Regions from separate parts of the Homo sapiens genome. Here region 2 is linked to region 1. Evidence: fine-mapped expression QTL. Tissue or cell type: subcutaneous fat. Region 1 holds a variant in brackets; the other region holds the start of a gene. All regions are shown on one strand. Distances are from middle to middle. Region 1 has its middle 29 kb from the start of CFL2. Region 2 holds the start of CFL2 (cofilin 2).

Evidence for each region. PIP is the estimated chance that this variant, and not a neighbour inherited with it, causes the effect.
Region 2: CFL2 starts here. The variant in region 1 is the best candidate, but not a certain one, in a credible set for the expression of CFL2 in subcutaneous fat (GTEx, PIP 0.87).

What each region holds. Positions count from the first base shown.
Region 1 is chr14:34,741,145-34,746,375 of GRCh38, reverse strand. No RefSeq gene overlaps it. Among named protein-coding and RNA genes, the nearest start is that of CFL2, 29 kb to the right of the region's middle. The variant G/C (reference allele first, on the strand shown) is at 2,302.
Region 2 is chr14:34,711,723-34,716,953 of GRCh38, reverse strand. CFL2 (cofilin 2) reads left to right here and starts at 2,361. Exons shown (of 4, transcript NM_138638.5): 1 at 2,361-2,416; 2 at 3,393-3,700; 3 at 3,818-3,894; 4 at 3,977-5,231. The coding sequence starts at 2,414. The coding sequence ends at 4,089. RefSeq lists silencers at 1,925-2,514, 2,605-2,664.

The DNA.
Region 1 (5,231 bases):
GAGCAAGACTCCATCTCGAAAAAAAAAAAGAATAAGTGGTCTTTAGACAGACTTCCATTTCTGGTAAGACGAAGCAGGCATCTTCTCTCCTATTCCTCCCACTCAGTATAGCTAAAAACCCTGGACGTTCTATATAAAACAAAAATAAGACTGAAAGGTGACAATAAGTCAGACTGACTAAAGGACCTTGGGACCAGAGGAAAGACAGTGGTAAGTTCCCTAGGTTTTCTTTTTGACTTATATATCAGACTTGATGCTAAAGAAGCGGAAACTTGAAAATGCCAAGTGGCACAGACGAAGTGTAAAGCCACAACAAAAGCCTCTCTAGCCAAAGAACTAGGACAGGGGCAGCCTAATAAGACAGAAAACCTAGACAATAACCACTATCCCAGCCAAACACCACAAAAAACAAACCAACCAACCAACCCTGGCCCTACCCATATCCACACCAACAAAGAACAAGCAGGGAGTCTACACTTCCATCCCCAGAAGGATAAAATGAGGCGGTACAGTGCACCCACCGGAGTGGTGTCAGAGAAGTAAGGAACAAGAAAGGCAAAGTAAGGAACCTGGCCTTTCATCCCTGCTGGCAGAAATGAGATACCCCCAATCCCTCCCAGTGTCAGTACAGACCGTCTGGGGGGCTGATTCACACATCTGCCCACCAATAGCAAGGAGCACCCCCTTTCTGGTGTCAAAGAGGCTGGCAGGAGAACTTGGACTTCTACTTGTATCTGGCAGTTACAAGGAAGCAACCCAGCTTTCTTTGCCAGAATGGTGTCACAGAAAGCCAGCTAAAACTAGGTTTAAATAAGGTATTAAGTCTCATCATGGGCTGGGCATGGTGGCTCATGACTGGAATCCCAGCACTTCGGGAGGCCAAAGCCGGCCAAACCCAGGAGTTCGACACCAGCTTGGGCAATATGGCAAAACCTGTCTCTACAAAAAATACAAAAATTAGCTGGGCATGCTGGCACATGCCTGTGGTCCCAGCTACTCGGGAGGCTGAGGTGGGAGAATCGCTTGAGTGTGGGAGGTGGGGGTTGCAGTGAGCCGAGAGCAAGCCACTGCACTCCAGCCTGAATGACAGATTGAGACCCAGACATTTTTATACTGTTATGAGACTTTATTTTTATTTTTTTGCAACAAAAAATAAAAGGCTCATAACAATACGAAAATGTCCGCATTTCAATAAAAAATCATTCATACGAAGAACCAAGAAGATTGAAACTGAATGAAAAAAAAGATGTCAACACCAAAATGACATGTTAGAACAATTGACAAAGATTTTAAAGCAGCCATGATGAAAATGCTTCAATGAGCAATTATGAACATCCCTGAAACAAATAAAGTAGCTTCAGTGTACTAGTTTCCTATTGCTGCCATAACAAATCACCACAAATTCACCAGCTTAATGCAGATTCGTTAGCTGTAGGTTAGAAGTCTGACATGGGTCTTAACTGGGCTAAATCAATTTGTCCACAAGGCTGTTACTTTGTAGAGACCCTAAGGGAGAATCTATTTCCTCGCTCCTTCCAGCTTCTACCCACATTCCTCGGCATGTAGCCCTCTTCCTCCATCTTCAAAGCCAGCAACATGACATCTCTGTGCCTTTCTGTCACATCTTCCTCTAACCACAAGCAGGAAAGTTTCTCTGATTTTAAGGACCCATGTAATTAGATTGCACCCACCAGACAATCCAAGCTAATCCCCCTGTTCAAATCCTCAAGCACATTATTTTAAAGTTTATTTTGCCATGTAGAGTAACATATTCACAGTTCCAGGGATTAAGACATGGACATCTTTGGAGGACCATTCTGCCTACTGCACTCAGCAAAGAAATACAAAGTCTCAGAATACAGAAGTTATGAAGAAGAACCAAATGGAAAATTTAGGGCACAGTAACCAAAAGAAAAATCTCAGTGGATGGACCCAACAGGACAATGGAGGAGAGAGAGGAAAGAATCAGTAAACTAGAATACATATTACCCAATCTGAGCAACAGAGAAAAAACAGATTGAACAAAATTGAACATGACCTTAGGGAACTATAATAAAAAAAAAACTAACATTCATGTCATCAGAGTTGCCAAAGCAGAGGAGAAAAAAGGTGGGACTAACAAAGCCCTCAAAGAAATAACTCAAAATTCCCCAAGAGACAACCCACAGATTCAAGAAGGTGAACAAACTCTGAAAAGGATAAACCCAAAGAAATCCATGCCAAGACATCATAATTAATTTTCTGAAAACTAAAGACAAAAAAATCTTGAAAATAGCCAGCAGAAAATGAGTGACATTTTAC[G/C]TATAAGGGGAAATCAATTAGAACACACTAGAAAATGGTGGGAGAAAGAAGTGGCGCAATATTTTTCAGGAACAAACTGTTCGAGTTTTGTTCAAAAACAAAACTGTTGGCCGGGCACAGTGGCTCACGCCTGTAATCCCAGCACTCTGGGAGGCCAGGGCGGGTAGATCACTTGAGGTCAGGATTTCGAGACCAGCCTGGCCAACATGGTGAAACCCCATCTCTACTAAAAATACAAAAATTAGCCGGGCATGGTGGCATGCACCTGTAATCCCAGCTACTCAGGAGGCTGAGACAGGAGAATCACTTGAACCCAGAGGTAGAGGTTACAGTGAGCCAAGATTACACTACTGCACTCCAGCCTGGGCAACAAGAGTGAGATTCTTTCTCAAAAAAAAAAAAAAAAAAAAAAAGGCCAGGCGTGGTGGCTCCCGCCTATAATCCCAGCACTTTGGGAGGCTGAGGTGGGCAGATCATGAGGTCAGGAGATCAAGACCATCCTGGCTAACACGGTGAAACCCCATCTCTACTAAAAATACAAAAAATTAGCCAGGAGTGGCGGCAGGCACCTGTAGTCCCAGCTACTTGGGAGGCTGAGGCAGGAGAATGGCGTCAACCCGGGAGGCAGAGGTTGCAGTGAGCCGAGATCATGCCACTGCACTCCAGCCTGGGCGACAGAGCGAGACTCCATCTAAAAATAAAAATTAAAAAAAAGAAGTTATCTAGGCTGGGTGGAGTAGCTCACACCTCTAATCTCAGCACTTTGGGAAGCTGAGTTAGGATGATCATTTGAGCTCAGGAGTTCGAGATCAGCCTGGGCAATATGGTGAAACACTGTCTCTACAAAAAATACAAAAATTAGCCAGGAGTGGTGGCTCATGCCTGTGGCCCCAGGTACTTGGGAGGCTGAGACAGAAGTATCACTTGAACCCAGGAAGTAGTGGTTGCAATAAGCTGAGATCTGGTCATTGCACTCCAACCTGGACACTAGACAGAGACACTGTCTCAAAAAAAAAAAAGAGAGAGAGAGAGATTGGCCAAGAACTATGAGTTGTGGGTAGGGAGGGCTGAATAAATAAGAGTGCAGGGGATTTTTTTTTTTTAAATACAGGGTCTCACTCTGTCACCAGGCTGGAATGCAGTGGCACAATCTCAGCTCGCTGCAGCCTCAAACTCCCCAGATTCAGGTGACCCTCCCACCTCAGTCTCCTGAGTAGCTAGGACCACAGGCACACGCCACCATGCCCGGCTAATTTTTGTATTTTTGGTAGAGATGGGGTTTCGCCATGTTACCCAGGCTGGTTTCGAAATCCTCAGCTCAAGCGACCCACCTGCCTTGGCCTCCCAAAGTGCTGCAATGATGGCACCCAGCCAAGAATGTTAACCTGAAGTGTGCATGCGTTTAGGGCCACAAAATATATGAAGCAAAAGCTGATAGAACTGAAAGGAGAAATAGACAAACCTACAGTTACAGACGGAGACTTCAACACTTCCCTCTTAACAATTACTAGAACAACTAGGCAGAAAATCAGCAATGATATAAAAGAACTAAACAATAACATCAACCAGTAACATACAGGCTTAGAAAAACTCCACCCAACAACAGAACACAACAACAGAACATACACCAAGACAGATCATATCCTGGGCCATAAAACAAACCTTAAATTTAAAAGAACTGAAATTATGTAAAATGTAATCTGTGGCCACAATGAAATCAAACTAGAAATCAATAATGGAAACATAACAGGAAAATCTCCAAACTAAACAAAATACTTTTAGATAATCCATGGGTCAAAGAGGAGGTAAAAAAAATTGAGAAAAAAAAAGAGAATACAATAAACAAAATGAAAAAATAGATATATTTTCCCCCAAGCTATATGCTTCTACCTTAATACTCTTCCTCTATTTCATTTCAGGTTTTTTCACTCTAAAGTCTAAACTAACTAGGTCAGAGTCTTCAAAGTATTGCATTTGTTTAACTGGCATAATAATGCTATCTCAGCATAAACTATGGTAAAGGTTCCACCAGTCCAGGCCATTTTTGACAACTTCTTGGAAGGAAATGGGCAAACCACAAATCAAAAGAACATCCGCATCTGAAAATCCACCCTGTATAATAGTAGAAGGCAAGAGATCTGTAACTAAAGCTAGTTATAAGTTGATGGACTCACTATGAACAATTTGGCTACATCTGGTAGAATTACAGAAAGCATGTAGAGTTCACATGTGTTAGAAATCCTAGAAGATCAAAGACTCTTAGCTTGAACTCTTTCTTAGTAGAGCTAAAAATGTATGTCACTCGGCCAGGCACGGTGGCTCACGCCTGTAACCCCAGCACTTTCGGAGGCCAAGGCAGGAGAATCACAACGTCAGGAGTTCAAGACCAGCCTGGCCAACATGGTGAAACCCCGTCTCTACTAAAAACACAAAAATTAGCTGGGCGTGGTGGCATGCACCTATAATCCCAGCTACTCAGGAGGCTGAGGCAGGAGAATTGCTTGAACCCGGGAGGCAGAGGTTGCAGTGAGCCGAGATCACGCCACTGCACTCCAGCCTGGGTGACAGAACAAGACCCTGTCTTGGAAAAAAAAAAAAAAAAAGTGAAGACCATGGGAAAGGCGCAGTATCTGGCCTGGAGTGCAGTGTTCCTCATGGCACAGTCCCTTAGTGGGACTTCCTTGGCTAGGGGAGGGAGTTCCCCAACCCCTTGTGCTTCCCAGGTGAGGCAACACCCCACCCTGCTTCGGCTTGCTGTCTGTCGGCTGCACCCACTGTCCAACCAGTCCCAATGAGATAAATCAGGTACCTCAGGTGGAAATGCAGAAATCACCCACCTTCCACATCAGTCTCGCTGGGAGCTGCAGACCAGAGCTGTTCCTATTTGGCCATCTTGCCAACAATTCCCTTAAGAAACTCACTCAAAACCA
Region 2 (5,231 bases), 29 kb after region 1:
TCAAAAAAAAAAAAAAAAAATGATGGGCAGCCTCTAGATGTTGGAAAAGGCAAAGGAGTCTCCCACTACAGTCTCTTGACTTTAGCCCCATCAGGCTTATTTCTGCTAGTTGTGGTGGTTCATGCCTGTAATCCCAACTACTCGGGAGGCTGAGGCAGGAGGCTCACTTGAGGCCAGGAGTATGAGGCTGCAGTGAGCTATGATCACATCCTGCACTCCAGCAACCTGGGTGGGCAACAGAACCAGAGACTATCTCTTAAATATATATATATAGAGAGAGAGACTTGTTTCTCTGACTCTGTAAGACCATAAATAATAAATTTGTGTTGTTTTAAACAAGTAATTTTATGGTAATTTGTTATAGCAACAGTCGAACGCTAATACATGTGGTATCTGACACTCAGATCCCCCTCCACTACACAGTGACCAAAATTCATGCAGCAATGATTGGCAATGCTGCCCCTTTACCAAGTGGTGGTAAGTTCTGGTTATAACTCACAGAGGTGAAGGCAGGAAGCTGCTACTGGCCCTGACATTCTCAGTGCCATGCTCACAAGGGCATGTAGAAAGGCTTCACAATTTTCAGAAGCTTCCTTTTCATTCTCTTTACAGCACTAAAGCATCTTAAATGTATTATTTCAGCACCTATTAAGCACCTACTATCTGTCAGGTTCCAGAAATTCAAAGATAACCAGGACTCAGATCCTTAAGGAGCTTACAGCGCAGTAGGGTGGCAGAAGACATAAACAAGTTATTATAATGTAACAAAATATATGCAAGACAAAAATAACTTCAGGAAAAGAATCTTAGAACATGTGAATTACCATCTCTGTTTGGGGAGGGTAAGAGAGAATGGGAGGCATGGAAAGGGGTTGGAGTCCGAGCTAGGGGGTGACTAGCATCTTTGGAATCCCCAGCTTTGGTGGGTAAGGTTCTGACACCCACTTTAGGCCCCAGTGTCATCAGACCTGGTCTCTGCTGGGGCTGCTGCAAATCTCTGAGGTTGGGAAGGGAAGGTAACCGCAAGATGAAGCGAACAGGAATTTGCTAATACCTACACATAGCAGATGATCAGAGCTCTGGAGAGACATTCTCCATGACTTCTTGGAAGTTCAACAGATAAAGTGAAAGGTTCCATAAATTGTAATGTACCAGCTAGATATAAAGTATTATCCACTTGCTTGGGATTCATGCTTAGACATTGGGAAATCCCTTCTCAATTTTTGTCTCTAAACGAAGTCTATCTTCCAATTAAGAAAACAAACCCAAGATATAGACAGAAAAATAGGTCTGTTTCAATGCCTAGCATGTTCCATTTAAAATACAGTAAATTTGGGCTGAAAGAACTTATCACGCAATCTAGGGCAAACACCATCTCATGACTTTCCTGCCTAACCTCAATCCTGAGACCACCAAAAACACACCATTTCCTACTGAACATTGATATACTCAGAAACTGAAATCTAAAGCTGGAAAGGGCCTTAACGATAATTTAATAACAGTTTGTTTTACACATGAAGAACCCTGAGGTATGGAGGAGTTAAGATTAAAAAAAGAGAAACTGCCTTGGCGCAGTTATATGGGCTTTGCTAGAAGAGGCTGCGTCGGCTTATTTGATATCAGCTGTCATAGCTGGAGCTTCATGAAATCTCTAAGAGAGAGTACAATCCATTTCCTATGAAGTCTAAAATGTAAAAGGATATTACTAAGGAATGCTACCACGTAATTTTTTAATCATAATTATTATTTCAACCAGAGTTTTGAAAAGTGATTTACCAACACTGCGTATCATTTTGTTTTTGCTAAGTACTATCAACTGGAGCAATCTCGTGTAGTATTTATTCTCATTTATCTCTAAACAACTGGGGGTTTTCCAAAAAGACTCAAAATGTCGAAATCCAGCCTCTTTCGGGAAAACCACAGGTAAATAAGGAAAGACACCTTCGCAGGAGTTCCCCTCACACGCACCCACCCCTGGCGCAGGGCCCTACGGAGGCGGTGGAAACGCCCCTCTGGGAGCCCAGCACTCTCTCCCACCGGCTTGACGGGTGATGCTCGGGGGCTGGAGGCGGCTCTGCCAGGCTCCCGGGCTCCGCTACCACCGCGTCGCCCCCCCCGGCCTGCAGGGCTCGCGCTCTGAGGTCAGGCCGAGGACGCGGACAGCCGGGGAGCCGGGGCCGCGAGACAGAAGGGCCGGCCTGGGAGCGGGTGGCGCCGGCTGGGGACCAGGCGTGCCCACGTGACCGCCCCGCCCGCTGCCTGCGGCCCGCCGAGCCCCGCCACCTCCCTCGGGCTGCAGCTCCCGGCGTGCCCCGCACTCTCCGCTGCCCACCCGCTCGCCCGCCCCTCCTTCTCCTCCCAGTGCCACAGAGCCGAAGCCCGAGCTGCCGCCGCAGCCACAGCCGAGGGCACTATGGTAAGACGAGCGCGCTGGCCGGGAGGCCGCGGCGAGGCGAGAAAAGCCCCCCGCACGGCCCCGGGAGTGAGGCCGCCATTTTAACCTGATTTTGGCCTCCAAGGTGGGCGCTTCTGCTCTGCGGCTCCGCTGCTCTCCAGCCGACCGGCCTGCCCTCCGGCCGTCAGGCCCTGCCCTGCTGCTCTTTGGATTTTGGGGGGCGGGGAGGGCCCGGGCGTCGGCGCAGGTTGGGGGTCGGGGCCGGGCGGGCGGGGGCGCGAGAGGGTCTGCGGACTGCAGCCGCTCGCGCCGCCTTTGCCCTTCGCTTCCTAATTTTACTTAACACGCGAGGCTTTAAAATTGGTACGTGCTGCGAACGCTGTGTGGGTCAGGGTCTGGACGGCCTGTAATAAAACCCTTACGGGGAGATTAAGGAAGAGGGAAAACACTTTTTAAAATGCTTTCTCGCCGTAAAAGCTTTTACACTCGATCAGTTAGTTTTGGAGTGTCTGCATGTGAGCTGTGTGTGGGCCGTGGGCGGTTTGGAGTTTACACTTGATTCTCTTTCCTTATGAGGAAACGTCAGTGGCTAGGATGACTTTAAAGAAAAAAATAGTAGAAGCATTAACTGAAATCCAAAAGTGTTTTTTTAAGGCCAGCCGAGTTGACACAATACAGAAGGTATTTTTGCTGCCACTCCTGAAGCTCTGACATCACCCAGTGAAATAGGAAACATTTCAGGGATGGGACAACTTGTATTTGTCCCTTTCGCTTCCACGTCCAAACCCCTTTAAGAAGGATGAATGGGCAGGATGAGTTAGACTCCTTCGCTGTATCGTCTACTGATTCTTAAAATGTGACAAATCTGATTGGACGACTTACATGGTACGGTGCAATTTTTGATGTCCAGACTAAAGTGAGTCTTCTCTAGGCAAACAGTAATTTTGGTTAAAACCAAAATACGTGTTCTGAATTACTGTTCTGTGTTTATTTTCAGGCTTCTGGAGTTACAGTGAATGATGAAGTCATCAAAGTTTTTAATGATATGAAAGTAAGGAAATCTTCTACACAAGAGGAGATCAAAAAGAGAAAGAAAGCAGTTCTCTTCTGTTTAAGCGATGACAAAAGACAAATAATTGTAGAGGAAGCAAAGCAGATCTTGGTGGGTGACATTGGTGATACTGTAGAGGACCCCTACACATCTTTTGTGAAGTTGCTACCTCTGAATGATTGCCGATATGCTTTGTACGATGCCACATACGAAACAAAAGAGTCTAAGAAAGAAGACCTAGTATTTATATTCTGGTGTGTAAAAACAAAAGAAAAAAGTACTTTTAAAATGCAAGGATTATTATTATCATAGTCAGTCTTACCTTTGTTTTTCTTATAAATGGGATTCAATAATTTTTTTTTTTTCTGTAGGGCTCCTGAAAGTGCACCTTTAAAAAGCAAGATGATTTATGCTAGCTCTAAAGATGCCATTAAAAAGAAATTTACAGGTACAAACTTGAATATTTGGGGCAGAGAAATTATTCTTTATTAATTATAATAAAGTAATAGGATAATGTTTTTTCTTTTTAGGTATTAAACATGAGTGGCAAGTAAATGGCTTGGATGATATTAAGGACCGTTCGACACTTGGAGAGAAATTGGGAGGCAATGTAGTAGTTTCACTTGAAGGAAAACCATTATAAAATGACAGTCAAGTGCCATCTGGATCTTAAGGAGCTTCCATTTCTCCAGCTCAGTCCATTGGAATAGTATTAGGTTTTGGTTTTTTGTTGTATTTCCCCCTTTCCACTGGGCCCTTCCAACACAATGAATGAAGGAAATATCATTTATTTAAGCAGCCTATCAGTGATTGCCATTAGACTGTTGAATACTGTTACTTTTATATAGAACCCAAGGAATGCCTTCCTGTCATATTTTAGCCAAAACAACTGGTTATATGCCTCCCTTGCAGCAAGCACTACAATGTATGTGATCGTCAATGTGAATAGCTTAGAATACTGCAAAGGATAAGCTAATTGAATGCCTTGAAAGTATTATCCACTGGTCAGATGGTCAACTTTTTTCAGTATTATTTATAGTTGGCACTTGATTGCAGTTCTGTGAGGCTTGAGCATTCATACACCTCACCTGCCTTGGCAAGCCTATTTTAGTGATATGGCAGCACGGATATAACACTATGCATTAAAAGCACTTTTTGTAATAAGTTTAATATCCTAAAAGGAATGCCAATTAAGTTTTGTTAACTGTGTCATCAACTTATCCTAGTACCTCAGTGTTCATTCCTGTTACCTGCATATCTTCTTAAAAGAAATAGCTGTTATTAATGCCTTTTTGTTTTCCATTGAGTGTACACTACTGAATAAGTGTAGGAGTTTTATGTTTACCATGTGAGTCCTGCAACACTAAAGATATTTTGAATATCAGTCATGATGGCAATTTCTGTATAAAAGAGCCTTAAATGGAACATTGTTTTGAGATCAAACTCCCCACCCTCACAAAAATGGCCACGTTGCAATAAAAATTGTGGCATATTACAGAACGTTGCCTTGTTTTCCTTGGAAATTTTGCAAAATGTTATGTGAAACAACTTCTAGGGTAAAAACAGCTATTACTAATCTCTGCACTGGTCATTTGAGAATTTTTTTTGTACAGCATTCATGTGTGATATTTTCCAGATTTGTTGGATCTATTTGGTTTAAAAAGTATTCTATCTTAAGGCCAACTAATATAAAATACCATTGTTAAAGAATGGTACTTTTATAAACATTAGTGTATTTATTTCCTATGTGTTAATATGAAGATCAGAAATTATTTTTTGCACTTT